4 separate regions of the Homo sapiens genome follow, and regions 2, 3 and 4 are each linked to region 1. Evidence: fine-mapped expression QTL. A gene starts in region 1. Each other region holds a variant in brackets. All regions are shown on one strand. Distances are between the middles of the regions.

What was found. PIP is the estimated chance that this variant, and not a neighbour inherited with it, causes the effect. A credible set is the group of variants that fine-mapping cannot tell apart.
Region 2: its variant is the best candidate, but not a certain one, in a credible set for the expression of PVT1 in Th1 cells (Schmiedel 2018, PIP 0.55).
Region 3: its variant is the best candidate, but not a certain one, in a credible set for the expression of PVT1 in whole blood (TOPMed, PIP 0.88).
Region 4: its variant is the best candidate, but not a certain one, in a credible set for the expression of PVT1 in skin (TwinsUK, PIP 0.79).

What each region holds. Positions count from the first base shown.
Region 1 is chr8:127,790,191-127,798,109 of GRCh38, forward strand. PVT1 (Pvt1 oncogene) reads left to right here and starts at 4,334. Exons shown (of 9, transcript NR_190187.1): 1 at 4,334-4,544. It overlaps MIR1204 (microRNA 1204), which reads left to right and starts at 5,772; the gene lies at 5,772-5,838. RefSeq lists enhancers at 2,744-3,314, 4,457-5,026, 5,027-5,598, 5,320-5,369, 5,470-5,809 and silencers at 4,040-4,089, 4,110-4,169, 4,180-4,339.
Region 2 is chr8:127,978,806-127,986,724 of GRCh38, forward strand. The region is part of intron 3 of PVT1 (Pvt1 oncogene); the gene reads left to right. Among named protein-coding and RNA genes, the nearest start is that of MIR1205, 22 kb to the left of the region's middle. RefSeq lists an enhancer at 1,681-1,730. The variant A/ATAAT (reference allele first, on the strand shown) is at 3,846.
Region 3 is chr8:128,094,343-128,102,261 of GRCh38, forward strand. It overlaps PVT1 (Pvt1 oncogene), which reads left to right. Exons shown (of 9, transcript NR_190187.1): 8 at 2,176-2,312; 9 at 6,638-6,914. Among named protein-coding and RNA genes, the nearest start is that of MIR1207, 49 kb to the left of the region's middle. RefSeq lists an enhancer at 1,475-1,724. The variant G/C (reference allele first, on the strand shown) is at 4,326.
Region 4 is chr8:127,999,359-128,007,277 of GRCh38, forward strand. All of the region lies in intron 4 of PVT1 (Pvt1 oncogene), which reads left to right. Among named protein-coding and RNA genes, the nearest start is that of MIR1206, 5.6 kb to the right of the region's middle. RefSeq lists enhancers at 1,739-1,878, 1,957-2,538. The variant C/CT (reference allele first, on the strand shown) is at 3,803.

The DNA.
Region 1 (7,919 bases):
CTCTACCTGTCACCCGGTGGAGTGGAGTGGTATGATCTCAGCTTACTGCAACCTCCACCTTCCAGGCTCAAGTGATTCTCCAACCTCTGCCTCCCAAGTAGCTGGGACTACAAGGTGCGTTGCCACCACACTCGGCTAATTTTTGTATTTTTTGTAGAGATGGGGTTTGGCTACGTTGGCCAGGCTGGTCTCGAACTCCTGGCCTCAAGTGATCTGCCTGCCTTGGGCTTCCAAAGTGCTGGGATTATAGGCATGAGCCACCACACCTGGACGGCTGGCTTCTTCTTGTTGGTCAAATTATCTAGTATCAATTATCTTCTTGCCCCATTTTCTCTTTAGCTCTCTGCCGAGATTTACTGTCTCAATAGCATTGACCATTGTTGAAATTACCTTGCTTATTGGCTTGTCTGCTTCTTCTGACTAGAATGTCAACCTCACAAAAGCAGGGACTTGGGCTGTCTTATTGCACTCATAGTCCTGAGGACTAGCACAGTGCCTGGCACATAAGAGGAATTTGATAATGTTTGATAAAGGAATGAATGGGTTTTGTAGATAAGGATGCAGATATAGGGCCAGGCATGGTGGTTCATGCCTGTAATCCCAGCACTTTGGGAGGCTGAGATGGGCAGATTACTTGAGGTCAGGAGTTCAAGACCAGCCTGGTCAACATAGTGAAACCCCTGTCTACTGAAAATACAAAAAGTAGCTGGGTGTGGTGGCAGGTGCCTGTAATCCCCACTCAGGAGGCTGAGGCAAGAGAATCGCTTGAAGCCAGGAGGCGGAGATTGCAGTGAGCCCAGATCGTGCCTGGGTGACAGAGCTAGACTCCATCTCAAAAAAAAAAAAAAAAAAAAGAGGATGCAGATATAGAGAAGGTAAAGACTGGTACTGAGCCTAAAATTATTTAATTATAGAACCAATACTAAACAACCATGAGAACTGCATTTACAGAATGGAAGTGGTAATCGAAAGACAATAGCACAACTAGGCTAGCGCAGTGGCTCATGCCTGTAATCTCAACACTTTGGGAGGCCGAGGCGGGTGAATCACTTGAGCCCGGGAGTAAGCCAGGCATGGTGGCACATACCTACTCAGGAGGCTGAGGTGGGAGGACTGCTTGAGCCTGAGAGGTGGAGGCTGCAGTGAGTCGAGTTTGCACCACTGCTCTTCAGTCTGGATGACAGAGTGAGATCCTGTCTCAAAACAAAAACAAAAACAAAAACAAAAACAGAAAACAACGAACAAATACAGGTGAGGTAAAGGGAGATGTGAGAAAATGTGTGAATGTAATAGCAAAAAGTTGCCTGGACTTTACAATGATGAGGCCTACAAGTAAAACATCATCATGCCACTCTTTCCTTGCTTTTCATTATCTTTTCTGAACCTTTGTAGCCTTATTTAGAAAGCAATGCTTCTCATGTGGTAAATAAATATTTAAAACACAACAATTCCTTTAGTTTTATGTTAGCTTCCTTTTCTTCTACTAAAAAAATTAGATTTCTTAAAAATTGCAACTATGAGACATTAACATTGTAAAATATTTTTCCTATCTATTTGTCAATCCTGCATCCATCTATATATCTATATCAAGATCTATGCCTATATGTATCCATCTGTGCCCAAAAAGGCCTCATCTGATATTCAGAAAAATTATTTCTGGCTGATAAAATTTGTTTTTCTTCTCTATTTTTTTTTCTGCAGAGTTTTAATGTTTTACAACGTGTATGTATGTGTGTGTGTGTATATATATATATAATATCACTTTTGCAAGAAGAAAAGTGACTTTTAAAAAATGAAAGCAGGCCTGGGCACGGTGGCTCACGCCTGTAATCCCAGCACTTTGGGAAGCTGAAGCGGGTGGATCACGAGGTTAGGAGATCGAGACCATCCTGGCCAACATGGTGAAACCCCGTCTCTATTAAAATACAAAAAATTAGCAGGGCATGGTGGCGCACGCCTGTAGTCCCAGCTACATGGGAGGCTGAGGCAGGGGAATCGCTTAAACCCAGGAGGTGGAGGTTGCAGTGAGCCGAGATTGAGCTGCTGCATTCAAGCCCGGTAACACAGCAAGACTCCATTTAAAAACAAACAAACAAACAAACAAACAAACAAACAAAACAAAACAAAAGCAGATATACCAAAATGTTTATTTTGGATGGTAGGAATATTAAAATATTATTTTTTCTTTGTATTTTTACTGAAAAAATGTTTTAATTCTAAAAAAGAAATTAATAAAAAGGAAAATGTGAATCTAAGATTAGTGCATGAGAGCTGGAGACCCAGAGAGGGCAAACAGCATCAAGGTCAAAGTTGAGTGAGTCCTGGGTGAAAGTGTCTTTTCAGCCAGGGGAGATTTTCCATGCAGAAGGGACTGGGCATCAACTGTCAGGACATGGACAGAGACGTCTGCCATTAGAAGCTGGTCCTCTCATAGCCCACCAGCATCCCCCAGGAGGACACTGGCTTCCTCAAGGTCACAGCCTTTGGTTTCTGGAAAAAATGATTAAGCAGTGAAAGGATTAAGGTCTCACAGCTCCTATCGCATGATGTATAGATGCAGAGGTTTCTCATCATCTTCTTTTTATATTTTAAAAGATGGATGACAACTAGATGCCAACTGCAGCTCAGGCACCTGCCCAGTCCCTCTCAGAGCCGGGCACAAAACAGACACCTGTCTAGCCCCTCACAGAGAGCCAGGCACAAAACAGACACCTGTCCAGCCCCTCACAGAGAGCCAGGCACAAAGCGGAGACTTGTCCAGCTCCTGGCAAGGAGCCAGGCACAAAAGAGATGCCCATGAGTGTAAATGAATCTGTGAAACAGGCAGAACAGGAGCATCAACTGAGTAATTGTTTTTTCTTTTTCAAATAAGAACATTTGCGTTGAGAAGCCGCCACGGGAAGAGATGTGATGAAACACTACACAGAAAGAGGGAGGAGCCTCCGGGTAGGTTGGAGTGAGTAGGATGTAGGGTAGCCGGCAGGGGAGAAGAGGGGCAACCTTCTGTTCCGTAATATTGATACCACCCATTTGTGTGTCCAATTTTTGCTGGTTTGTGACGTCCTTCTAGGGTCCATGAGTAACCCCCACCCCATTGCCTAGCTGGGTGCCTGACTCCCCTTAAGTGCTCAGTAGACGTTGAACTGGACGGGCGCTGGCGTGGTGGCTCACGCCTGTAATCCCAGCAATTTGGGAGGCCGAAGCGAGTGGATCATCTCAGGTTCGGAGTTCGAGACCAGCCTGGCCAACATGGTGAAACCTTGTCTCTGCTAAAATTACAAAAATTAGCTGGGCGTGGTGGCGCGCGCCTGTGATCCCAGCTACTCCGGAGGCTGAGGCAGGAGAATCGCTTGAACCAGGCAGGCGGAGGTTGCAGTGAGCCATGATCGGGCCACTGCACTCCAGCCTGGGTGACAGAGTGAAACTTCATCTCTAAATAAATAAATAAATAAATAAATAAATAAATAAATAAAATAAACTTTGAACTGAACAGGGGCAGCTCTTACATCTGTCCAGTCTCGGGTTTATGCAGATAGAACAAGATAACCACATCCCACATGGGAGGCCAGTGTCCACTTGCTCCTTTGGAGGAACTACTGGGCATTTAAGGGACTCGTTGAACACACTCTGTAGGTCAACTCTGCCCGGAGTGGAGGGAGCTGCGCAGACCGCTGGCCCTCTGCACGGGTTTGCAACTCGGCTTCTGGAAACAGCGGGAGACGTCGAAGGAGGCGAGAAGGTGCGCGCGCCCTTCTCACCAGGCCGGCGGATGCTGGGTGGTACCCAAAGAGGCGCTCAGATCACTGGAGCTGGAGCTCAGTCGGCGGTCTTCTGCGGGAACTGCACCTATCCCGGAGCATCTCTGGCCCTCCTATTTCACTGAACTCGCCTTCCTCAGCAGGAAAGTGGGAAGACCGCTTGCTTCCAGGACGGTGTGGGGAAGGGTAAGAGGGCTCAGGGAAAGACCGTGGAAAGCTCGGCGCACAAGCGAGCTGGCATCACCGGGGATTCCCTCCGGCCCGGTGGGACTCCGGCGCGCTTGTAGCGAGGACCCCCAGCCCAGGGCAGAGCCTACCCTCCGCTCCCCCAGTCTGGGCCCTTGGCGGCCGCAGTCGCCCAAGCCCGCCCCGCCTCCGCGCGCGGCCCTCTCCGGCTCAGTGCCCTGCGCTGCCGGGAAGCAGGCTGAGGGGCGCACCGGGCGGCGGGCGGGGACCTGGGGAAGGCCGGGAGCGCCGGGACCGAGGACGCACGCGGCGGGCCGGGCCGCGCGCGCCTCCCCCCTCCCCCGAGGCCCGAGCGCGAGCCGCCGTGACGTCACGGGCAACCCGCCAGCCCCGCGCTCCTCCGGGCAGAGCGCGTGTGGCGGCCGAGCACATGGGCCCGCGGGCCGGGCGGGCTCGGGGCGGCCGGGACGAGGAGGGGCGACGACGAGCTGCGAGCAAAGATGTGCCCCGGGACCCCCGGCACCTTCCAGTGGATTTCCTTGCGGAAAGGATGTTGGCGGTCCCTGTGACCTGTGGAGACACGGCCAGATCTGCCCTCCAGTAAGTTCCAATTTTGTCCCCTGCGTTTCTGGAAACTCTCGAGACTTGGCCCTGAGTAGGGATGCGCTGTGAGTAGTCGGACGGAGGAAAGGGGCTTTCGGAATCCAATATGTGTGTGCTAGGCGTGCACTGTCCTCATCACCAGCCTCAAGACTGGTGGCGAGTTTGGGCGTTTGGGGAGGGTGAGGGGAGGGGGATGACACCGAATGGCCGGTGCATAGAGGCAATTCTGGATTTATGAACTTGATCAAAGGCATATTAACTAATTTCTAAAAATAGACCCCTCTGCAGTCAGAACAGATTTGGAGCCATGATGTGGTTTGGAGGCCCCTCTGGCGAAACTAGAGGTCTGTGAATGTGTGATCCTCCCTCCATCCTTTGACCATCACTCCCCGCTTCCTCTCACACCCCCTCAGGGCTGGGCGAAGGTGATTTCCAAAAACTCAGTAACTCCGTGTTTTGAGACTTTCTCAGTTTTTGCATCGCATGTGAGGGTTTGTTGGGTGCTCCTAAACCCTCATCATGGTCATTCTTCTTGGCTGGGCTGTTGATTTAATTAGGTTTGCCTTCTCTTGCTAACGTGCTCTTATTTATGCCAGTGTTTGTGGTTCTGGGTGTAGACTTTCAGGAAGCACAGCCATGAAGCTGCATGCGTCTGTGTGTGGATGCCTCATGCCTTTTCCTGGTGGTTTGCAGGCATGGAAGATTCTTCTGTTCATCTAAGCTCCTGACTTTAGGCCCTTCTAGAACATTAGAGAGGAGAAGAAATCACGTGCAAGGATTTAGGGACAAGAGGATGAGGTTTTGGTGTTTCCTTTCTGGTATTAGGTTTTCCAGAGAGAGGCTGTTAGCCTGTCTCTCGCCCACTCCACCACTGTGAATCCTGGCTACTGGGGCTAGTTCCTTGCTAGGAAAAAAAAACTCTAGAGAAATGTGTTTGTGTGTGGTGGGTGGGCGGGGGCCCTGAGGATGCAGGGACTGTGTCTGCTGTGTTGTCTGTTATAAGATGTTTCAGACCTATTTTGCATACTGGCAGCGACAAGTTGAGACTTGTTCAACTTGACACAGTCCTGTGGTCATAGCGAATCTTTCTAAAGCTCTGATCAGTCAAGAAGGGGGTTGTATCAATCCTCAGAACCCTGAGTGGAACTTTCTACAGGATTTATTAGGAGAAAAACCTTCCCGGAAGCTGCAGAAGGACAAATACAGAATCCGTGTCTGGGAGAAACCTCGTGGCCTGGTCTCCATTATTTGAGATGAGTTACATCTTGGAGGTGAGGACGTGCCTCGTGGTCTAAAGCTTCGGCACAAGGGCCCAACTGGAATTCCACTTACGGGTATGACTGTGGGGTATATGCTGTACCCATTGAATTCCCAGAGGGATTTGTTAAGTGGTTGTGTTGCTGTTTTGCCTGGTTAAGAGTGGCTTATTCTTGTTGCCTCATCTATCTTGAGTGCAGAATTTTTGCATAAACGGCTTCTCTTGAAAAATAGAAGTCCGTTTTTGTTTTGTTTTGTTTTTTTTCTGATTAACTTTCCTTTTCCTCTGTCTTAAACACCTTCCCCCGCCCCTCGCCACCTCCATGCTGTGTTTCTGTGGCTGGAGCTTTTCTGCACTGGAAAGGAGGAGTTCTCCCCTCTGTTCTGACATATCTGATCCCCACTAGTTTATATGATTGCTGGTCTGAAAACCTGGTGAATTCTCACTGCCCACATCAAATCAATTCCCTGTTCTTTAGTTGTTTTTTTTTTCCGCCTCCTGAGCGGTAGGCAGGCACTCTGGCTGGATTCTGGAGCCTGTGTTTGCCATGCCTGGGCCTTCTGCCTGCCCAAGATGGACACGTTTCTCTGGCAGCTTTGTCAAGAGATCTCCTGGACTATAAGACACCCTGTTCTTTCCTCCTGTTTGTGTGAGTGGCCCTGCATTTGGGCAGAGTATTGGCAGAATATCTGGGGGAAGTGGAAGACTTTGGATAGTTGCCGGTCCAGGTCGTCTGGAGAGGCAGTGGCAGGCCTGCTGATGGCTGCCCCTTTGCTATTTGTTTTATATCAGGTGGCCCTTCTGGATGTGTGGCCTTTTTATTTTGCATTTCCTTTCATAGTTGGCTGCAGACATAAGATTCTTCTTTTTCTCTTGTTTTGCTTTTTTTTTTTTTTTTTTGAGACAGAGTTTCACTCTTGTTGCCCAGGCTGGAGTAAAATGGCTGGATTTCAGCTCACTGCAACTTCCGCCTCCCAGGTTCAAGCGATTCTCCTGCCTCAGCCTCCCAAGTAGCTAGGATTACAGGCATGCATCACCACACCCAGCTAATTTTGTATTTTTAGTAGAGACGGAGTTTCTCCAGATTGGTCAGGCTGGTCTTGAACTCCCAGCCTCAGGTGATCCGCCCGCCTTGGCCTCCCAAAATGCTGGGAGGCCTCCCAAGTTGCTGGGATTACAGGCATGGACCACCATGCCTGGCTAATTTTGTATTTTTAGTAGAGACGGAGTTTCTCCAGATTGGTCAAGCTGGTCTCGAACATCTGACCTCAGGTGATCTGCCCTCCTCGGCCTCCCAAAGTACTGGGATTACAGGTGCCACAGTACCCGGCCTTGTTTTGCTTTTTATTGTTTCCTGATGCAGGTTTGTGATCTCTTTGAGGGATCAGGACCACACCCCCCACCCCAATTTATATTCCCAGTGTCCATGGTGGGACCCTGACTGAGGATGGGAACAGAGCAACAATCTGGAATCATTTGGACCATTGAGTCCTGTGGACAGTCACTTCAATATCATCCCTAGAGAGTCTCAGAAATTCAAGGCCTTTTGGAATGCTGCCAAAATGGGTCCTTTGGCAGGAGCCCCCTTTGTCTCTTCTGTTTTCTGACCTCAAATAATCTAAGGAACTAATAACGGTAATAAATAACAATTAATAATAAGAACAATAATAGTGCATGTATAACATGGACATTGTTTATCACGCAAAGCATGTTCTTCACCTTCTACTCCCTACAACTCCATGAGGCATTTATAATGAAATGTCTAGCAATGGTAGACTTCTTGTTGTGGGGCAGGGTTGGTTCTAACACTTCAAATTATATGATCTCATTTAACTTTCCTATAAAATAGGATGATTATTGTTGTGGTTTTGCAGATGAGGAACCCACAGCCCAGAGAGGTTAAAAATATCCTCCCAGGTCACACAGCTTGGGAGAGGCAGAGCTGTAGAGATTTGGACCACAGTCTTCGACTTCTTAGTGTGACTCTCAGAAGTTAGAGGATAATGAGGTTAAGAACAAGCAAAGGGCCGGGCGCGGTGGCTCACACCTGTAATCCCAGCACTTTGGGAGGCTGAGGCAGGTGGATCACCTGAGGTCAGGAGTTCGAGACCAGC
Region 2 (7,919 bases), 190 kb after region 1:
TTGGAGACAAGGTTTTGCTTTGTTGCCTAGGCTGGAATGCAGTGGCAGAAACATAACTCAGTGTATTCTTGAACTCCTAGACTTAAGCTGCCTTGCTAATGTATTTACGTGTGTGTCTGTGTTTGTAGGTCTCACTATGTTGCCCAGGCTGATCTCAAACTCCTGGCCTCAAGTGACCCTTCCGCCTTGGCGGTTGCCATTTTTAGCATTATTGTTATTTGGACATTGTGATTAATACTTTACACAAATGACACAATTTAACCTGTACCAAATAATCATCTTTCATTTATTGTCTAACAATAAACTCAACCAAATGTGTAAGTTCATCTATCTATTTGTCCATCTGGTCATCATCTAATCACCCAACAGAAGTTTTACCAAACTCCTTTTTTATATTAGGTGCTAGGTGAACAAAGTTGAAGAAAATGGGTCTCTAACTCAATGAGCTGGGATTCATCCACGCATTCAAACGATCACAAGTGTTTGCACACTGCTCACTACCCTTGCTTGTTGATGCCAGCCTTGAGTCCAGGCTTTCCATCCTTGTCAGCAAGGTGTTCCCACAAAGTAGCTCCCATTTGCTATGATATGTTTGCCCTTCTGGTCCTGGAACCTTCATCTTGGTGACACAAGGCCTGAGCATCTGTCATATAAACCTTTGCGATGCAGGCTGTGTTCTCTAGGAAACAGACGCTAAGATGTAGATTAGCAAGTAGGATGTTTATTATGGGATTCCTTTGGGATCAACAGCTGTGAAACTGAAGGAGAAGAAACCATAGTTGGGCAGAGGGAGAAGTGGAGCTGTAACAATGTCCCAACAAAGGCCAATGCCAGAGGAGCCTGGGAGCTAGACTGATCCTTCAGAATTGTCCTGAATTGAGGTGAGGGTTGATCAGTCATTTCATGTGCCCCCGACCCCACCACCCAAAGGATGCCTAATCTTGAACAAGGTGATTGTATTCGGCCAAGGCAGTTCCCAGAGAGGGCTGATAGCTGATGGTCATCTGCCAGCACTTTAGTAACTGCTTTAGAAGAAGCCTGGATGGAGAAACATCTGCTTTGTTTTTTTGTTGTGGTGGTGGTTTGTTTTCAGTGAAAGGGTCTTGCTCTGTCACCCAGGTTGGAGTGTATTGGCATGATCATAGCCCACTACAGCCTTGATCTCCTGGGCTCAGGCGATCCTTCCACCTCAGCCTCCCAAGTAGTTAGACCTACAGGTCCATACCACAGCATCCGGCTAATTTTTAAAATATTTTTGTAGAGATGGGGTCTCACTGTGCTCCCCAGGCTGGTCTTGAGCTCCTGGCATTAAGCGATCTTCCTGCCTCGACCTCCTGAAGCGCTGGGATTATAGGTGTGAACCACTGTGCCTGGCCAAATATCTGCTTTGCTTACCATTTTATCCCCAGTATCTAGTACATAAAAGCACACAGTATTGGGGGGAATGGAATTACCTAAGCTTTACGGAAGCACTGTGAGTAATTCATTTAGCAAATATGTATATCTATTATGTTCCTATGACATGTCAGTCACGATTACTACCCTTACGGAGGTTATAGTCTAGGGGGTTTGGGCTGAGCGGTGGCTCAACACTGACTTCCTGGAAGAGGCAACCTGCATACTGGGGGCGTGACTTCCTGGACGATGGGCTCTGGGCCAGCGTTGGGCTCAGTGTTTCCTGGGTTCCCTAGAAGGTGGCTTATTGAGCTGGAGACTTGAATGGATATGGGATGTTTTCTCAGGGAGGGGGCTCTCTGTTGCAGCCCACCTCTGGGCGCACCTGTCCACCATAGGAAATTCCCTGCTTCACTTACCTTCATTGACGTTTGAACTCCCAGGAGCCTGGAACTTCCCCAGGTGCCCCATTGGCTTGGTGACTTTACATCATTACATCAGTTGAGTAATTGAAGAATGGAGGAACCATTCTTTTGAGCTAAGTGGAAAAATATATTTTCTCCTCTGTGAGTCACCAAAAACTACAGCTTCTTTTTTTTTTTTTTTTTTTTGTTTGAGACAGAGTCTCGCTCTGTTGCCCAGGATATAGTGCAGTGGTGCAATCTTGGTTCACTGCAATTTTCACCCCCTGGGTTCAAGTGATTCCTTGCCTCAGCCTCTTGAGTAGGTGGGATTACGGGCATCCACCACAACACCCAGCTAATTTTTGTATTTTTAGTAGAGATGGGGTTTCACCATGTTGGCCAGGCTGGTCTTGAACTTCAGACCTCAAGAGATCCACTGCCTTGTCCTCTCAAAGTGCTGGGATTATAGACGTGAGCTACCGCGCCCAGGCTTAGAGCCCAGCTTATACCCAGTTACTTAGCTTCTGTGTGTGTGTGTGTTTGTAAATGAACTATTATATTTCAGGAAGTTCCTAGCAGGGAGGATGAGATGGAATCAGTGAATTTTAGATCTCAAGGAGAACTAGAGATTGCTTGGTCCAACCTCTTTCCTCTGCAAGAGGGCCCTTGTGGGGAAGGGACTGGCCAAGGCTACCCAAAGAGCTTGGAGAGAGGTGCAGGGCATGTGACCATGTGCAAAGCATTTGCCAGTAGAGTTCGGCATTTTTTCCTGGCGCGTTCACCTCCTGACAGGGCACCAGGAAGGTGCTGCACAGCCTGGCATGTGGTGGGTGGTGTTTATCTGCACAAGTCACCCAAGTGATCAGAACGCTTTTACGGAAAACAATGGCTTTGATGTTCTGGGTGACAAGACCAAAGCATGCTGGCGGGAAGGGAGGTTTTTGGGGTTAGAGAAATGAAAACTATTTACATTTAGGGCTGACTTAATAACTTAACACCTCTGAAGTGGGAGGATGTTTTTGAGGGAAAGTTGAATGTAAGTGTAGTACAAAAAGGAAAGTTTGAGGTAGAAGACTAGGAGTGGAAATACTTCTAATGGCTCAGGGAAAACGTCCTGGTAAGGTTGAACTTCCAGATGCCTCCTTTCTTCCCACACCCCCACTGCATCCTCTGTTTCTACGGTGAGATTTGCATGGCACTTTACAGTTTCCAAAGCATTTCCTCACATATTATCTTCTTCAGTCCTCCCAGGAGGTGGTGCCACCAAAGGCTGTCTGACCACACCTGCGGCTTTTGGAGGGAGCTTGGCTTGGAACCCAGGGTTCTCTGAGTCAAAATCCTTTTTTCCTGGGACAGTGGTGGTCCTCACATTCCCTTCAAGACTATAGACTTTAGAAGCCCAGTCTCTGGCGCTAGACTTCCTTCCTTCACCTACCAGGCTTCTCCCTCTGCAGAGGTCTTGGGCGCCTTTTGTGACCATTCTGTGACGTGGTTTCTTGAAATGTAAGATGGGGATAATGTGAGCACCTACCCACCTTCTTGGGTTGTTGTAGGGATGAAAACATCTTCACAGTTCCTGGCACCTATTGGAGTTGGATAACGATGTTAGGATTACTTGAGGCTGGCTTTCCTACCTTGTTTTAACAGCAGCTCTAGAGTTTCAGAAACATAAGGACTGGACTTTTGGTGATCAAATCTAAACACTCTCCAGTAAAATCAGTGATGCTGCTGACTCTGAGTCTTTAATCATTCTAGTCTCTTCACCCTCTGAAAACAAGAGGATGTGTAGCATAGTGAGCAACAGCTGTGTGCCGGGGACTCAGCATTAAGTAGCATGGGATTACTCATGACTTCGCACTCATGGCAGCCTCACAGGTAACTTTGTCAATTTCTTTTTTTCCTTTTATATTAAAAAAACAAAATGGCTGGGTTCAGTGGCTCATGCCTGTGATCTCAGCACTTTGGGAGGCAGGGGAGGGAGGATGGCTTGAGCTCAAGAGTTCCAGACCAGCCTGGGCAACACAGTGAGACTCTGCCTCTACAAAA[A/ATAAT]TAATTAATTAATTAATTAATTAATTAATAAAATAAATGAATCAATTAAAAGAATTAAGAAAAACAAAACAAAACTTTTTGAATCAGTAAAGCATTTACAAGACACAAAATCCAAAAGGTATACAAAGTTTTCCAATGAAGACTGCCAACCCTCATGTCCCCAGACCCCTGTTTCTCCTCCCTGGGACACAGTTGTTGCAGGTTTCTTGCTCCTTCTTCCTGAAAGAGTCTGTGCATTATTGAAAAGAAGATGTGTGTCCATGAGTACATCTACAGACGAGTGTTGAGCACCTGTTGTGCACAGTGGTGGGGGCAGTGTGATGGGAGTACACAGGGCAGGGAGACACGGGTCTGGGCTCCCCTGAAGTTTGCAGCCGTATTAAGGGCTCGGCCTTACAGTGCGTGGGGCCTCGGCTTCAGAGGAAGGGCTGATCTTGGGGCTGGCTGCTGCTTGACTTGGAGTACCTGCCTCCCTCTGGCCTCCTGTTGAGGCAGCCTGGGGTCAAATCCCAGCTCACCTATGTGCCAGGCTGCTGGATGGCTCGGATGTGGCCTAATTATTTCCTGATGGCCCTGCCAGCCTGGCCATGGGCTGTAGGAACAGTAGTAGCCATCCATTTTTCTTTCTTCTTCTTGGACGGAGGTGGTGGTTCAAATGAAATTTCAGCCTTACCCTTTGTAGTTTTCTACGTAATAAATCCTAACATCTGTGATTAAGGTGACATAGGTTTTTTTGAGAAAGGCTTTGATTTCTTGCTTGCATGGATGGTTAATACTCCAGGCTCTTCAGGGTGATTCTCGCCCTCTTGTTCTGTAGCTTGTGGTCCTTATTTATTTTAATATAATTTAAAACTTGCAGAAAAAAATTATGAACATATGAAGAACTACTGCACACCCAGATCATCAGTTGTTAACTCACACTCCACCCCACCACCAAATACGCTATTTTTTCCTGATCCATTTGAGTAAGTTGTAGACATGCCCTTTCATCCCTAAATATTCAGTGTGTGCTCCCCAAGGATAACGACATTCTTTTACATAACGACTGTATAATTATCAAACTCAGGAAATTTAGCATTGCTGCAATTGTATTATCCAATCCTCAGGCCACACACAATTTGATCAGTAGTCCCAATAATGTCCCTTTTGACTATTTTTTCCCAATTATGGATCATTATTGCATTTAGTGGCTGTGTCTCATGTTCCCCAGTCATACTTGACTTTGATTTTTTTTTTTTTTTTTTTTGATATAGAGTCTCACTCTGTGGTCCAGGCTGAAGTACAGTGGCATGATCCCAGGTCACTGCAACCCCCACCTCCCGGGTTCAAGTGATCCTCCTGCCTCAGCCTCCCGAGTAGCTGGTATTACAGGCGTGTGCCACAAAGCCTGGCTAAGTTTTGTATTTTTAGTAGAGACGGGGTTTCACCATGTTGGCCAGGTTGGTCTCGAACTCCTGACCTCAAGTGATCCACTCACTTTGGCCTTTCAACGTGCTGGGATTACAGGCGAGAGTCACCGCACCCGGACGACTCTGACATTTTTGAAGAGTCCAGGTAAGTTGTTTTATAGAAACACTCCTCAGTTTGGGTTGAGACTGTTATTTTTGAAAGCTCATACTGCACCACTTGCTTTAATTCTGTAATCCTCAATGGTCCCCTATGGCTGCTGATCACGTCCGCGTCTCTGTAGATAAGAAAACGGAGCCATCGGGAAGTAGAGTGGTTTGTCAATAGTCACATTCCCAGCAAGTGGCAGAGCTAGGATTCAAATCCAGACTATCTGTCCTGAAACCTAATTTGCCTACCAGGCAACAGGAATAAGGACAACAATTAGACCCTGAGAATAACAAAGTGTTTATCAAGCACCCACTCTGAGCCAGAGGTTGTGTTGAGCACTCTGCAGACACTGCAGTACAATACTCCCATCCATCCCACCCCAGTCCAGGAGCAGCTGTTTTATGTTGTTGTTGTTTTGAGACAGAGTTTTGCTCTGTCGCCCAGGCTGGAGTGCTGTGGTACAATCTCAGCTCACTGCAACCTCTGCCTCCCAGGTTCAAACAATTCTCCTGCCTCAGCCACCCAAGCAGTTGGGATTACAGGCATACGCCACCATGCCCAGCTAATTTTTGTATTTTTAGTGGAGACAGGGGTCTCGCCATGTTGGCCAGGCTGGTTTCTTTCTTTTCTTTTCTTTCTTTCTTTCTTTCTTTCTTTCTTTCTTTCTTTCTTTCTTTCTTTCTTTCTTTCTTTCTTTCTTTCTTTCTTTCTTTCTCTTTCTCTTTCTTTCTTTCTTTCCCCTTCCTTCCTTCCTTCCTCCCTCCTTCCTTCCTTTCTTTCTTTCTCTTTCCTTCCTTCCTTCCTTCCTTCCTTCCTTCCTTCCTTCCTTTCCTTCTTTTTTTTTTTGACAGATTCTCACTCTGTCGCCGAGGCTGGAGTGTAGTGGCGTGATCTCGGCTCACTGTAACCTCTGCTGCCTAGCTTCAAGTGATTCTCCTGCCTCAACTCCCCGAGTAGCTGGGATTACAGGTGCCTGCCACTGCCCCTGGCTAATTTTTGTAGTTTTAGCAGAGACAGGGTTTCACCATCTTGGCCAGGCTGGTTTTGAACTCCTGACCTCATGATCCTCCCCTCTCGGCCTCCCAAAGTGTTGGGATTACAGGCGTGAGCCACCGCGCCCAGCCTTCCAGGCTGGTTTCAATCTTCTGGCCTCAAACGATCTTCCTGCCTAAGCCTCCCAAAGAGCTGGGATTACAGGTGTGAGCCACTGTGCCCGGCTGAGTAGCTGCTTTTTTTTTTTTTTTAATCCTCGATTTACAGATGAAGACCAGAGAAGCTAGGCTGACTTCCCATGTTGACACAGCAACTAACTGGTGGGGATCAGCTCAGAGCTGGGCAGACTATGCACTTCCCACCCTGCCCTGCACCCCATGCTCGGCTTGCTGGATTTGATAGAATCTAGCAAGCGTGGGGGCCAGGCTCTGCTGACTCCCTGTGAGAAGCAGTGTCTGTTTCTGTGTCCTTTTCTGGGGCCTTCTCCAGAGGGAAGGAACATATCCCAAAGCTGGAGCTTGCACTCAGGAGCTTCCCAGGGGAAACTGCTCCACTCTCTGCCATCTACAGCTCTTGCAGGTACCATAGTCTACCTCCATGATCTATTTGCAGTGGGCGATGGTGTTTTGATGATTTCCACATCATGAACCCAAGTGCTGTTGCTGATTTCGAAGCTTGTTCACTGTCTCCTGCCAAGTGGCCAAGGGCTCCTACCCTAGCCCTTGGTGGCTGCTCCTGGCTGCCATCTGCCCACCCAGTTGGCCCCACTGCCTGGGCCACGTTCTGGTGGCATCCAAGAACTGGTAGCAGAGATGGTGATTAGTCAATGTGTGTTATACCCTGGGTCTCTCCATCTTTCCAACAGAGACCTGCCTTACATGTAGGACTGCCTCCCCTTGTTCAGGTTACCTAGCCCTTGTGCAATTCACCTTCTGATTGGAGAAGGAAGACAATACGGCCCTGCCTCTCGGCCTGTAGAGAGGAATGGATGATGTGAAACTGTGGCATGCTTGATATTCTGCTGGCAGAGAGGAGAACAGATGTTAACACAGAGCACACCTCTGCCCCGAACCTCCTGGGAGCCTTGGAGGTCCTGAGTCAGCCTGTCCTTGGCACTCAGGCTCTTCAGACGTCAAAGCACAGCGTTGGGCCCAGCATGACCTTCTGCGGTCCCAGGAGACATCAGGGAAGTGTTGTCAGTGTCCTTAGAAAGCCCATGGCTTGCTCGGCCACATCAGGTGCAGGGACCTCAGTCAACCACACAGCAGGTAGATATCCTTGAGAACTGTGTCAGGTGGGAGGATAGCCAGAGGGTCTGGGGGCAGCCACCTGACCCTTCAGTCCCAGGATCTAGCACCTCCCATCAGACCTTCCTCTTCACTCCCTGTTTCTCCCACCAATTATTGGCATTGGCATATTTCTGAGCAAGTTCTCTCCTTGTGGCCTGTCACTCTGTGGGTGGGAAGTGACCCCCTGCTGAGCAGGTTCAGTGTTTTGAGGTGGGGCTATGACCTTCTGCTTTGC
Region 3 (7,919 bases), 300 kb after region 1:
AGAAATGTAATTTTATAGCATGAAAATTATAGGAAATTCTATCATTAGCACTTGTAAATAAAGTTTTATTGGCACACAACTATGCTTGTTCATTTATGTATTGTCTACATAAGCTATAGTTGGTGTGTGCAGAGCTTTCACTCAATGATGGCACAGTTGAGTAGTTTCAACAGAGATGGGATGGCCCAGAAAACCAAAATATTTACTACTTGGCCCATTACAAAAAAATTTTGTGCTGATCCTTGGTCTGTGAAACAGGAGCAATGATGAATACCTACCCATCGTGTGTGGGTAAAATGTTAAAGTGCTTGATATCAAGTGGGCACTCAAGAAAAGTTTTTCCTTCTACTCTCTATTCCTCCCTGTCTTCATTCCCTTTCACAGAGGGCTCTTTTATTTCAGGGTCCAAGCCATGAAAACCATAGAAAAAGGATGACAGGGAGAATCTGAACCAGTACCATGCCCATACCAGGCCTCAAAACAGCAGAGCTGTGTTTGTCATCTCCACCTTCCTGCTCCAGAGCCTCCCCAGACCTCTCAGTCTATGGGACTGTTGGTGGACAGGCAGAGTTTAAATCCATTGCGTCTTTTGCGTCTCGTGGTTCCAGATGTGGATGGGGCCAGCCCTGCATGACCAGCCCCGGAGAGCAACTTCTATTAGGTTTATCAGAGGCTGGACAGCGTCCACTGCATCTTTTCTTGCTTTGGGCGTTTTAAAACTTGGGCTGCTGTTGCATAGGAGATTGCAGCTGCAGTTTGGCTTGGCTTAAGATAAGATGCAGCCTCTGGGCTGAAATTGAGGGTCCTGATTCTGCTTTGAGAGATGGTATGGCATCCTGAAAAGAACCGAGATTTGGAATCTGGGCTGGAATCCCAGCTGTGCCCCTCACAAGTTCTAGGATTCGTACCTTTTGCTTTTTCTGAAAAGTGGGGGTGATGCTTTTTCTTGGGGTGAGGGTGGGGTGTTGGCAGGGTTCTCCACCACGTAAGCTTGAGGGAGCAGGGTTTTGTCTTTTTCTGCACTGAAGCCCAGCTTCTAGAACAGTGCCTGGCTGCGGGTGAGCACTCGGCAAATACCTGCCTTAGAAAGGTGATTAAAAGATGTAGAGTTCCTGGCACACGATAGAATCTCATTAAGTGGTCACATTGCCATTGTCTGTACTCAACCAGGAATTGGCACACTATGGCCCACAGCCTGTTTTTGTAAATAAAGTTTTATTGGAACACAGCTATGCCCATTTCTTTACATATTGTCTGTGACTGCTTTCCTGCTATAGTGGGGGAGTGGAATCGTGAGACAGACCTGTGCCCTGCCGAGCCTAAAATATATATTGTCTGGCTCTTTACAGCAAAACTTTGTGGTTTCTGCTCTGAATGTCAGGGTAACCCTGTCTGAGGATGATCACGGATTTCATTTTCCCTTGTTTGTTAGCGTTGCGGTCAGCCGCAAGTTGAAAACAAGGAACCAGCTTGAGGTACGCATTCTCGATGCCCTTTCTAAGATACTTATGGAGACTTTTCTTTTCCACTCCAATTCTGCCATGCTCTTTCGGCATGGTCAGAGCTGGCTTCTCTGTGCCCTCCAGATCTCATATGTAAGATGGTGTTACTTTCATTTCTTTGTAAAAAGAAACTCAACCCACCTGTCAATTGCTGGTATATTCATTAGGGATTAACCATGGGTCCTGCAACAAGTAGGCTCAGAGCACAGAGGACATGAGTCAAAATAAAAAAAGATAACCAACCAGGTACAACTGTGCTTTGTAATATTATAGAATAGAATGCTGATGGGGTTCAGGAAGGAGTCCACTGTGTTTGTGGGGCACAGGATACATAAGATTCTGATTTACTTTTCCATCATGGTGAATGGCATGATCTTAGACACCTTAGTTAGCTTTATTCAAACTCAGTTTTTCAATCTGTAAAATGGCAATGTTCACTATATGTTGTCACTCTCTTTGATGGGCAGGGCCCACAGTTAGGAGCCTCTCGAGGCCTTGGTATCTAGAATGGTGAAGGAGAGCTTTCTGGAATGAGTGAACATGTGTCAAATGCTCTGACGTCCTCATTTGAAGGGGGCCCTGTCCCCTGTACCAGCTGAGCAATGCGAGTGGGCCACTGTCCTGCTACCATTTTATAGTCAGCGGATCTTTTTTTTTTTCTCTTTCTCTCCAGAAGGACAGAATAACGGGCTCCCAGATTCACAAGCCCCACCAAGAGGATCACCCCAGGAACGCTTGGAGGCTGAGGAGTTCACTGAGGCTACTGCATCTTGAGACTCAGGATGAAGACCCAGCTTGGGGCTGTCAAAGGTGCGACCTGCCAGCTGAGACCTCCAGGGGTCGAGCCCAGGCCCCTTTGCCTTGTTCATGGCTTAGGCCAGTGCTTAGCATATAGTAAACAACTTGTAAATGTTTATTAGAGGATGTATGGTGGGTCATCCCTTCTGAATGGCACACAGTCCATTGTCATTGTCCTCAGAGGCTCCAGCCTCAGGTGCTTCTTAAACTGCGATGGGAATGATGGCAGCAGATGGGCCCAGGGCTCAGCATGAGAGCTCACAGCAGGCTGTGCTCCACCCCACCCAGGCCCCCAGTCTTGCCATGTTTCCTCTGCCTCCCCAGGCTGGCCTAGAAACTGCTTCCAACTGAAACCAGCCAAATGCCTGCCCCTAACCACACCTACAACTCTAGGGTTACCTTTAGTCTAGATCAGGGGTCCTTAAACTGTAGCCTTTGCTGGGTACAGTGGCTCACACCTGTAATCCCAGAACTTTGGGAGGCCAAGGCGGGTGGATCACTTGAGGTCAGAAGTTCGAGACCAGCCTGGCCAACATGGCGAAACCCCATCTCTACTAAAAATACAAAAATTATCCAGGCATGGTAGCGCACATCTGTAATCCCACCTGCTTGGAAGGCTGAGGCAGGAGAATCACTTGAACCTAGGAGGTGGAGGTTGCAGGGAGCTGAGATAGCGCCACTGAACCTCCAGCCTGGGCGACAGAGTGAGACTACTTCTCAAAACAAACAAACAAACAAAAACTAAGCCTTTGGGCTAAATCTGGTGAGTGTTCTGTGCTTGTAAGAACTCTGAGTTAAGAATAATTTTTATGTCACTAAAGGGTTGAAGAATACAAAAAGAATATTCAGCAGAGACCATCTGGCTAGCAAAGCCTAAAATATTGACCCTCTGGCCCTTTACAGAAAAAGTGTGCCAGTCGCAGGATTAGGCAGTACTGACCACACCCCAGGCTCCCTGTGAAAATTTCAACCACACAGACTCATTTCCTTTCTCTTATCAACACTGAGGCAGGTGTGATTATCATTCCTTGTAAACATGGAGAAACTAAGGCATGGAGAGGTTTAACTCGTTTACCTGAGAATCTATTAAGTAACAGAGCCAGGGTTCAAACCCAGGCAGTCCAGCTTCAGAGTCCATACTTCCTAGCTGCACTCTGGGCCTTCAGCGTAGGGATGAGCTTCAGACAAGAACTCCCCTCTTAATTTCTGCCCTCTCCTGCCCCACAGCCAGTGGACAGGCATTTTGCACCCCAGCCTGCCCCCAGCCAGCTCCTACTCAGAGATTTCCTGCAGGGACTTAGACGAGGCTCTGGGACCACCCTCCTTTTCTGCCCTACCCGGCACCTGGAACTCTGCTTGATCCTGCTCCCTCTGAGGCTGGACACATCTCCATGAGCCAGGCCTGAAGTTCTTCCCCTCTCTGGACCTCGGGGCCTCCCTTCCTAGGGGCAGTTCCTGTGTCCCCTCTACTCTCTGCCTTCCCCCCGCCCCACCATGTCCTTGGGGCTGGAATTGTAGTGTGCAGCCTTGGGAACAGGGCTGGGCTCAGGGGTTGGGAACAGAGGCCCAGGGCTCTGGCTGACCCTCTCTCATCCCCAGGAGGAGAAGCTGCTGTGTTTAGAGTGTCACAAAGAACAGTGCTGGAGGCTTCAGAAATCTCGGGAGATTCTGAACTTCTAGGCGGAGCAGATGGGATGGTGCCTCTGTGATCAACAGGCCTGGCAGAGGGGTGCAGGAGGGGGTGCGAATGGAAAGACAGCTGCCAAGGGGAACGGAGAGCTTTTCAAGTCACCCTTGTCCCCTCCCCACCCCACCATCAGGGCTAAGACTAAACCTCACCATCCGGTTGCGGCCTCTCGGCCCTGGGGATGGAGATTAGTACATGTAGAGTGGAGGTAGAGAGGCCATGTTCTGGTTGTGTGACCTTGCACAGGTTACATAACATTCTGTGCCTCACTTTACTTGTTTTTAAAATGATGAAGATGATAACTACCTGGCAGCGTGTCTTATATTAGAGATAATATG[G/C]TTCCTGGCACTTTGTAAGCACTCGGTGTGAAATTGTCTTCTGCTGCTCCTCTTCATCAGTCCACCCCTCCTCTGCAGAGGTTTCCTCCATGCTGAGCAAGCTGGCAGCACCTAAATTCCTGTTAGTGCACCCTAGTGCCTTCTGCCCAGGCCTCGGGACCCCCAGGGATCCTGGCCCCTGTGGACAGGGACTTTTGTGCCCTCCTTCTCTGTTACCAGCAAGAGTGAGTCCTGCACTGAATTTCCATGGGATCATTGCTTGCTAACATTTGTGAGTGAGTTACTGTCTAGAAAGCAGCTTTTCTGGACTTTTCCCATTAATTTCACGAAAGTTATCTTCCTTTGCCCTTACTACATGTTCATTACTACAGGTTCATTACCCCATTTTACAGACAATTAATACTCCGAGATGAAGTGACTCACCAGGGGTCGCCTAGCTAAGCAGTGGAGAGTGGGCCTCCCACCCAGGCCTTCTCACTCTGACTCCTGTTCTCCACGTCATTGCATATGGCGACATGCGGGTCACGTGATCACACATCCCTAGCCGATATGGAATTGTGAGCTTCTCCTGGGTCTTCCGAGGAAGGATGCTTTCAGGAGTGCTTTGGAATGAAGGCAGTGGAGGCCAAGAGACCTCTAGGTCAAAGCCAGGCGGGAGGGTCCTCTCAGGGGCCCAGCCGACAAGTTGCATTTCTCCCTCAGAGGCCTGAAGAGGCAGAACACCCCAGAGGAGCCTGGGGCCACCACCCAGCATCACTGTGGGAAAACGGCAGCAGGAAATGTCCTCTCGCCTGCGTGCTCCACCTCGGTCCACGCCTTCCCTCCTTCTGGAAGCCTTGCCTGACCACTGGCCTGCCCCTTCTATGGGAATCACTACTGACCTTGCAGCTTATTATAGACTTATATGTATGCAGAAATATAATTTTAATTACTTTTATATTGCTCCGAGAGTGATACCAAATCATGATAGAAAATTTAAATAAACAAAATAGCCAAATTAATACCAGTAATCACCCCAGTCAAATATACCCAGCTCACATTTTGATGTAAAATCTTCCAGTACAGTTTCTATGTACATATATATATTTTTAGGAAGGAGATTATATTTTACATGCTGTTTTCTAGAACGTTCTTTTAAAACTGTATCATAAACATCTTGCCTTATAATTCAATAGTCTTCTACAACAAACTTTGCTAATGAATTTTTTTTTTTATCATGGTCACTGTTGTGTTATGTGCATCTTAGTTTAGCATCTTCAGTTACGTTATAAGTGTCTTAAGCCCTCAGGTTCCCCAGCCAGCCGCAGGGTGGGTTTGTTCATTGATTGATGGCTGTATGGGGTGGAGGAGGGAAGTAGAAAGTGAGTGAGATTTGGGTAAGCAAACCTGGGTTTAAATGCTGAGTCTGCAAATTCCATAAATTCTCCTTCCCTCCCTCCCTCCCAACCTTCCTCCCTCCATCCCTCCCTCCCTTCCTTCCTTCCTTCCTTCCTTCTTTCCTCCCTCCCTTCCTTCCCTCCTTCCCGAAACAAATGCCTTGTTAGATATTTTATATCTTTATGTAAATATGCACTCATTTAAATATCATGTGGGCACCTCCTCTGAGTGGCCCTGAGCTTGGTTCTTGGATGTAGCACTGCACAAGAGAAACCAGGTCTCTGCTCTCCTGGAGATCGATGCATCCAGTGTGGGGCACAGACTCAAATCAAGGCAATAGACCAAAACCTAAGCAGGCCACTAACTTGTGTTTAAGTACAACATCCACATGGACGGGAATGAGAATTACAGGGGGAGCACACTTGAGCTGCGGTCCAGCAAAGCCCTCTCTGGGGAGGTGACAGTCAAGCCCAGACCTAAAGGAACCTGCTGCAGGGAGGATGGGAAAGATGTTCTGACAAAGGCCTTGAGATGGGGAAGGCTATGGTTTAGATGAGGAACTTCAGTTGGTCATCCCCTCTCTCATCCATCCTGTTGAAACCACCTTTGCAAAAGGTGTGTCAATGAGAAAATTATAACAGTAAGCTAAGCCAACCCAACCTCCATCTTGCCTTTCTCTTAATTATTCCTGGGCTATTGGGTCAAGCTAACTTTGGAAGACATTTAGGCTACAGTTTAAATGATAATAGGCCTTGCCCAAAACTCAGCCACTTTTGTAAAGCTGTTAGGGGGCCATCAGGGTGCGGGGAGGAGAAGAGCCTGAATCCTACTAAGCTGCAGACATTATTCCGAAGGTTATAAGATATGCAACTTTCCCAATTGCTCCTGTGAATAACACTACTATTACAGATTGGCCTTTTGAAATATCTTTCCAGGTTTTTTGCATGTCTGACACCCATGACTCCACCTGGACCTTATGGCTCCACCCAGAAGCAATTCAGCCCAACAGGAGGACAGCTTCAACCCATTACGATTTCATCTCTGCCCCAACCACTCAGCAGCAAGCACCTGTTACCTGTCCACCCCCACCCCTTCCCCCAAACTGCCTTTGAAAAATCCCTAACCTATGAGCTTTGAATAAGATGAGTACGAACTTCATCGCCCACGTGGCGTGGCCGGCCTCGTGTCTATTAAATTCTTTTTCTACTACAATGCCGTGGTCTTTCTTTATGCAGTGGGCAGGAATAACCCCTTGGGCAGTAACAAATTTGGGGTCTCATGTGGGATTGTGCTGGTGGCTACCTGTGTATGATTCGGTAGCCCCCCACTGGCAACAGGCCTGGAGGCCAGCTCAAACGGCTGCCTAGTTCTCCTGGCAGAGAGATGGGGGCTGACTCTGGCACCATCTCTACCGGCGGGACACTGCTGACCATGGTGCATGGATGCAGTGGGCAGGAAGAATCTCTTGGGCAGTTATGCTATCTATCCAGTCCATCTGTCAAATGTATCCAGACTATGACCTCCTCTCACTTCTTGGTCGAAGCCACCCTCATTCCTGCCTGGAATTTTTGTAACAGCCCCTGGGCTGGGCTCCCAGCTTGTGCCTTTGCCTCTCAGTCTGTCTTCAAAACAGCAGCCAGGGTGATCCTTTGAAAGGGCAGCCAGAGCTCATAAGCCCATTTGCTTCAAAACCCTCAAAGGGTTCCACCTAATTCTGAGTAAAAGCCACAGGCCTCACTGTGGCCTGCGAGGCCCGTGGGATGCAGCCCTGTGATGTCTCTGATCACGTCCTCGTCCTTTCCATCTCATTTCGCCCTGGCATCCTGGCCCCTTTGTCATAACTCAGACCCTCCAGGCATACTTCTGCCTCAGGTTCTCTGCACCTGCTGTGTCCTCTCTAGCCTATTTGTCCACTTCCTCATCCCTTCTCAGTCTTTGCTCGGGTATCATCATTTCCATGAGGCCTTCCCTGGCCACCAGATTTAACACTGAAACTTCCCCACATCCCACGAAGCTCACTATGCTCTTTGCTGGTTTTATTTTCCTCCATTGTTCTTGGTGTCTCCTAATGGGTTCTACAATTAATTGTTTGAGTTGATTTATTAGTTTCTCTTACTCCCCTGGAATATAAACTTCAAGAAGGCAGTGATTTTTGTCTTATCTCTTTCCAAGAAAAGTATCTGTGACATGGTAGGCACTCCATAAGTATTTGTAAAA
Region 4 (7,919 bases), 210 kb after region 1:
TGCACGTATGTGTAAATATTTCTCCAGGTATCCATCTTATCTATGTTAAGCTAACTATGAGTTTATACTGCTGTCTCCAACTCTAATTCATTACCACATTTCACCCATTTTTTTTTTTTTTGAAATGGATTCTCACACTTTCGCCCAAGCTGGAGTGCAGTGGTGTGATCTCGTCTCACTGCAACCTCGCTCTCCCAGGTTCAAGCGATCCTCCTGCGTCAGCCTCCCGAGTAGCTGGGATTACAGGTGCACACCACCACACCTGGCTAATTTTTGTATTTTTAGTAGAAACGGGGTTTCACCATGTTGGCCAGGCTGGTCTCGACCTCCTGACCTCAGGTGATCCACCCACTTCAGCCTCCCGAAGTGCTGGGGTTACAGGCGTGAGTCACCACGCCCGGCCCCCATCCACTTTTAACAAACTTGTTTTCTTTTTGCCCACATTGACTGACAAAAGAAGGTAATGAACAGAGATGTTGGAAAGTTCACGTGGGGCAAGAGGAGTGGGCTGAGAACATTGGACTTTTCCCTATGGTCAATGTGGCCTCATTCAACAAAAATCAAGATGAGTCAGATGCATGTAGAAAGAGACTCCGAAATGTGTCCTGCCTAGATGTTTGCAAACCGGGACTCTGTGTTATGCTCACAGGCCTTTGAATGTGTCTCTCCCTGGGCTTCATGTGCCCTTGCTGGTTTCTGGACTGTCCTGTTCTGCTCCTGTCCTCCTACTGACAGCCTTTCCTGCTTTCCTTTCCCTCCCATGCCACTCCCACTCCATACAACCTCTTCCCCTGCACACTGCTCCTAGAACCCCTTGGTTAGCCCCATCAGGGATGTCCCTGCTTTCCTGGGACCCGAGGCACACAGAATGAGGATGAAACAGTTGACGTATCATGTAGTATCCCCCACCTGGCTTCCTTCTCAGCCAGGCGTCCCAAACTCAATTGTCTGCAGAGGCCAGGCAGGCAACAAAAATAAGTGATGTGGGCCTCCTGGGCAGTCAGGAGGGCTTGGTGCAGAACTGGAAGCACCAGAGGTAGCAAGGAACCAGGAGATCAGGCCAGCACCTGCTCTGAATGGTCAGGCACCTCCATGGTTGCATAGCAAATCAGTTGTTGAGAAATGTTTTGACTATGGTCCTTGTGTAGGCCCAGTATAAAGGGGGAAATGGCCAGTCTGTGGCTGCTGATTATGGCCCTGAAAGTCTGCAGGCCCAGAATGGCCAGACCTGGTTGTTCAAAGGAAAACTGGCAGGTGGGAAGGGCGGAGGGCCTTGCCCCTTCCCATTTGCCTCCTGTGCCTGACAGTGTCACCGTAGCAATACTTTCCTGGCAGCAGGACTTTGTCCCATAACAATAGTTGATTTTAGTGTGTAGGGCTTTTGTTGTTGTTGTTTATTCCATACTTGGAACCAGCTGCGTTGTGCTACTATCAGAGATGACAGCCCAGCCTGGAGCTCTGCAAGGTCCTCCAGGCTTCTCAGTTCTGATCATTCCACCAGCAGATCCCATCACCAAAGGGGTGTACTTGCTTCATGCAGCTGCTGCTTCTCCCAGACCTCATTGTCCCCCTTGTGCCTTTTCCATGTTCAATACAGGATTTGTTTTTTATCTGAAATTCTACCCGTTAAAACATTTGGTATGTTTCCTCTTCTCTTGTGAGGTGTATTTCTGTATTTCCTACCTTTGCATCCTTTGCTCAGTTCAACTTGAAGCAGGTTTCCAAGCTCATCACTTGGAGGCCCAGGGCATTGCCACTGCCCCCCACCCCACCGCCTACCGCCCACCTGCAGGTCTGTGCCAGGAAGCCCTGCGTGCTGTCTGCACCCCGTTTGGCTGCTTGCCCACAACCATGACTGCTCCTGAGGGGCTCGCCAGCAGCACTGTTTCCCAGCCTGCTGTGCATAAAGGTGACGCTTCGGGTTTTCCACAGTGAACAATGGTTCCCAGAGTGGGCAGGACTCCCTAGTGTCTGCAAGGGTGTGTGACCATGCAGGGTGGAAACAACCTTGTCAAAATAAACCAGGGCAGTGCTGAGGGGGGAAGTGAGGCTAGCTGGGGGGAAATGTGGGCTGAGTGCTTCTTGGGGGGTTTCCTCTGTACCGGTGCCCAGCTGCCCAAGGGTCCCAGAAGGCAGAGGCTGACACACTTCCTGTGACCCTTTCAGACTCGCCATTGGCCCCCACCAGATCAGGAATCTGTTTTCCCTTGTTGACCTTGAGCCACTCACAGAGTGGGAAAGGTTTGCCTATGGAACGAAAACAGTCCTCCTTCCATGATTTCCCCTTTGCTCCCATGTTCATCCATGTGGGCTGCTGTAACAAAATCCCATAAACTGGGTGGTTTACAAACAACAAAAATTTATTTCTCATAGTTCTCAAAGCTAAAAGTCCAAGATCAATGCGCTGGGAGATTTGGTGTCTGGTGAGAACCTGCTTCTTGGTTCAGTGTCTTCTTACCGCGTCCTCACATGGAGGAAGGGGCGAGAAAGCTTTCTGGAGCCTCTTTTGTCAAGGCACTAATCCCATTCATGAGGACTCAACACTCGTGACTGGATCGCCTCCCAAAGCCCCTACCTCCAAATCCCATCACCTTGAGGGTTAGGATTTCAACTATGAACTTTGGGGAGACACCGACATTCAGACTGTAGCAGCTCCCCAGCACAATCCTGCTCGACCGAATTCACCTTCCTGACCAGGCACGTCAACAATCTTTCTGTCCCTCTGATGCCAGAACGTTATGTTTCTGAGGGTGAAACTTGAGTGATTAATTGACAGTATTCCTCAGGAATCCTTGCTGATTGCTGAATGCATAAATGAGTGAAAGACCTGGATAATCCCCAACAGGCGCCTGAGTCTCACATCCGCCCTGGGTGATTCCCCATGGCCAGGGGCCCACCTCGGTTCCCAGGGATCCATGGGCATGATCATTGTGATGAGCCACTACTCTCCAATCTGGCCTCTGCACCTGTGTGACATTTTCCTCCCATTGCTTTACATGTTACTCTTTCTTATTCAGTAGGATGTGCAGATTGGTCAGGGTGTGTATTAGTTTCCTAGAGCTGCTATAACAAAGTACCACAAACTAGGTTGCCCAAAACAACAGAAATGTATTCTCTCATAGTTGTGGAAGCCAGAAGTCTGAAATCAAAGAGTTGTGAGGGCTGTGTTCTCCCTGCAGATGCCCAGAAAAATCCTCCCTTTCTCTCTCCCGGCCTCTGCTGGAGGCTGGCCATCCTTGGCGCTCTTTGGCTTGTCATTGCATCATCCAAGTCTCTGCCTCCATCCTCCTGTGTCCTCTCCTGTGTGTTTGTGTCCAAATTTCCCTTTTCTTAGAATTGCATCTTCTCTAAACCAGCATGACCTCATCATAACTTGATTACATCTGCAAAGACCCAATTTCCAAATAAGGCACATTCACAGGTTCTGGGAGTTAGGACTTCAACATAACACTTCTGGGGACACAGTTAAACCCACAACAGAGTATAAGGAGAAAATGTTACAACTTCCTTTCTCTTCTTTTTTTTCCTTTTCTTTTCTTTTTTTCTCTTCTTTCTTTTTCCTTCCTCCCTCCCTGTCTCCCTCCCTCTCTGCCTCCCTCCCTCCCTCCCTCTTCCTTCCTTCCTTCCTTCCTTCCTCCCTTCTTTTTTCTTTCTTTTTTTGACGGAGTCCTGCTCTTTGCCCAGGCTGGAGTGCAGTGGTGCAATCTCGGCTTGCTGCAACCTCCATCTCCCAGGCAGGTTCAAGTAATTCTCCTGCCTAAGCCTCCCGAGTAGCTGGGACTACAGGCACCTACCACCACAC[C/CT]TTTTTTTTTTTTAGTAGAGACAGGATTTCACTGTGTTAGACAATCCTGCCTCCCTCCCTCCCTCCCTTTCTTCCTTCCTTCCTTCTTTCCTTCCTTCCTTCTTTCCCTCCTTCCTTCCTCTCTTCTCCTCTCCTCTCTTACCCTCCCCTCCCCTTCTGTCTCCTCTGCTCCCCTGCCCTCCCTTCTCCTCCTTCTCCTTCTCCTTTTTCTTCTTCTCTTTGTTGTCCAGGCTGGAGTACAGTGGAAGGATCATGGCCCACTGTAGCCTAGACATCCCAGGCTGAAATGATCCTCTCTCCTCAGCCTCCCAAGTACCTGGGACTACAGGTATGTGTTCCCATGCCTGACTAGTTTTTGTATTTTTTGTAGAGACAGGATTTCATCATGTTGCCCAGGCTGGTCTTGAAGATATCTGCTTGCCTCTGCCTCCCAAAGTACTGGGATTACGGGTGTGCGCCATTGCGCCTGGCCTGTTGATTTCTTTTTTATAAAATGTCTTTGTTTTCATCCCTGTTATTATAATAATAATATAGGCATTCATATGCATATGTGTAAATTATAAGTGAGTTCTTATATAGATTTGGGGGACTATTCTCCAACATGACTGATGAGGGCATAGTCAAAAGACAAATTAATCAGGCCACCAGTCTGATTTATGAAGCGTCTCTGTCTTTGTCTATTTGGGCTGCTATAACAAAATATCATAGAATAAAGGGCTTAGTTTATTTTCTTACTGTGCTAGAGGCTGGGAAGTCCAAGGTCAAGGTGTGAACTGATTCAGTTTCTGGTGGGGGCTCTCCTCTTGGCTTGCAGATGGTTGCCTTCTTCTGTGTCCTTACATGGTTGTAGGAGCAGAGAGGGTTCTCTGGTGTTTCTTCTTATAAGGACACATATCCTTTCAGATTAGGACTTCACCCTTAGGACCTCGTTTAACCTTACCAACCTCCATAAGGTTTCTATCTCCAATAAAGTCACCTTAGGGGTTGGGACTTCAACATATGAATGCAGAATGGATGCTGGCACCTTTCAGTCCACAGCAGGCCGCAACTACTGTATTTCATTGTACAATAAGATCCCCTTGACTCTTGTGAATTATAATGAACATTAGTCTGTAAAGCAGGTCCTTGTAATCCAGCCAGTTTGTATACAGTAGGTAATCAAGAACTATGGATTTACTGGGTTTATTGGGTGGGGGAGAAGGGAGGGCTTTATTCAGGTGCCAGCACTTCTTCACCTTTCTCTACATTTGCTCATCCTGGAGGTGGGGTTGAGCTGGGTCTGCCTTGTCCCCTCACTTCCCTCTCTGCCGAGAGAGTCCTGAGCCCACCCATTACTGGTAGCAAAGCCCGGGGCACAATCTCCGTTTTCCTATTTGTAAAATGGAGCTAACAGTAGTACCCATCTCATCAGATGGCTGTAGAGATGAAATGAGATAATGTATTTGTGGCGTTAGGACAACAGTGGTCCTGCTACAGGGAGAAGCCTGGGCCAGGAGATAGACTAGTCTCCAGATACCACTGAAGTAGCCTTTCGAATACCAATTACCTGCCTCACTTTGCAGCTGTGCAGCCCTGAACAAGTTACTTTCCCTCTCTGATTTTCCAGTCTTTGTTACCTGTAAATGTAACAATGCCTTTCTCTATGTTGTTGCGAAGTCCACATAAAGTGACATGAAATTGATTATAAAATACAACACAGGCTGGGCACAGTGGCTCACGCCTGTAATCCCAGCACTTTGGGAGGTGGAGGAGGGCAGATCACTTGAGGTTGGGAGTTCAAGACCAACCTGACTAACATGGAGAAACCCCGTCTCTACTAAAAATACAAAATTAGCCAGGCATGGTGGCACATGACTGTAATCCCAGCTACTCGGGAGGCTGAGGCAGGAGAATCGCTTGAACCTGGGAGGTGGAGGTTGCAGTGAGCGGAGATCACACCATTGCACTCCAGCCTGGGCAACAAGAACAAAACTCCATCTCAAAAAAAAAAAAAGTTACAACACAAAGGTTGGCAACTATCACTAATAAGTTTGACTGGGAAACCTCACTACTACATTTGTATTGTCTTAGACCAAGCTTGTGAGATTTTTTTGTTATTTGTTTTTGAAGCTCATCAGCTATCGTTAGTGTTAGTGTATTTTATGTGTGGCCCAAGACAATTCTTCTTCTTCCAATGTGGCCCAGGGAAGCCAAAAGATTGGACACCCCTGTCTTAGACTTTTAAGGAGCTGTGACTGAAGGATGGAGACTGGGCCAGGTGGGGCTTGGTGCAAGTTTAAGCTCTTAGGTCATTTCTAAATAGCAAACCTCTCAAATAGCATCCAACAGATATGCCCTAGTCTTGTCGTCTTTCCCCTGCTATCTTTTGTACATGTACCTTCTGCTGACTGCAGTGTGTCCTGGAGCCCTGACTTAGTTAAACCTCAGAACATCCCTCTGCATCCGGATGCATCCAGTACTCTCGGTTTGTCTGGCTCCTGCTGTACTCCCTGCATCTGCCCAGCTGCTGACACAGCCACATATGGCTTCCTTTGCCCCAGCTTTCAGCATTCTGGTGGCTTGTAGTGCTGAGTGCTAGCAAAGAAAGTGGGTACTCTCACACACTGCTGCTGAAAGGTGGAGGGTGATGAACAGGACCAACAGCTCTAAAAGACGTTTCAAGGCCAGGTGTGGTGGCTCACACCCGCAATGCCAGCACTTTGGGAGGCCAAGGCAGGCAGATTACTTGAGGTCAGGAGTTCGAGGCCAAGCAGCCAACAAGGTGAAACCCCATCTCTACCAAAAATACAAAAATTAGCCAGATGTGGTAGTGCGCGCCTGTAGTCCCAGCTACTCAGGGGGCTGAATAAGGAGAATCACTTGAACCTGGGAGGCAGAGGTTGCAGTGAGCTGAGATTGCGCCACTGCACTCCAGCCTCAGTGACAGAGTGAGACCTTGTCTCAAATAATAATAATAATAATAATAATAATAATAATAATAATAATAATAAAAAGATAAGGGAAATTTGGGCAGGACTTCTCCAAGTTTAGAGTATATGCACCCTTTGGCCCAGCAATCCCACTTCTCGGAGTCTGTACCCTAGAAATAGTGAGGGAAGTTTCAAAAGATATTTATTCAACAGCATTAGTAATGTATCAGAACCTTGAAGACAGCCTAGCTGGTCAACAGTACAATGCTCAGTTGCCACTATAAAGAATGAGATGCTGTGTCCTTCTCAGTGCCTCAGATCAGGAGGCACCTGGTGTTGGCTTGTCACATTACTAATGATGTTTACTTCCATCACTTGATTAAGGTGATGTCTGCCAGATTTCTCTACTGTAAAGTTTCTATTTTTTTTTCTGTGTAATGAATAAGTATCTTGTCAGGAGATGCTTTGGACCTATGTAAGTATCTTGTTTCTCATCACACTTTCACCAAACTAATTTTAGCATTCGTGGATAATTCTTGTCTGAAACAGTTATTACTACAGTGTGTGCCAAACAGTGATTTTCTACTTCCATCATTACTCCTACATTTGTCAATTAAAATGTTACTATAAGGAAGATATTTTCTTTTATATTGAAAAAATGCAATTTTTTAAAAATCAGTCTGGACTCTTGGATTCTCATTATATTGGTTATAACCCATGACTATAATACATTTTGTGCTCAGATTTTTCTAGATTTTACATTGGGATGCCCTTCAAGTTGGGTTCTATGTATTTTTGCCATTTTACTGTTGTTTTTTGAGCACTGCCTTACCTTTTGACCCCACAAGATATTCTAGGCTCAGTGTACACTTTGCCTGGTCCAGCCCTGGAATCAGCCATTGCTGCTGTGCTATCCTTGACAGAACTATAACCTGAATTTAACAAGGAGGAAATATCAGGCAAACACAAATGGAGTGACATTCTAGTTAACAACTGATCAGCACTCTTTAAAAATGAAAGACAAAGAATGACTGAGGAATGAGTTCAGATTAAAAGAGACGAAGGGACACGCTCCAACTGTAACTGCAACGCATGACTGCGGGCTGCGTTCTGCATTGGAAAAAAGTGTTACTGATGAAATTTGAATATCGTCTCTAGATTGAGCAACTAAGCAATAATATTGTATTAAATTGCTAGATTGGGCAATA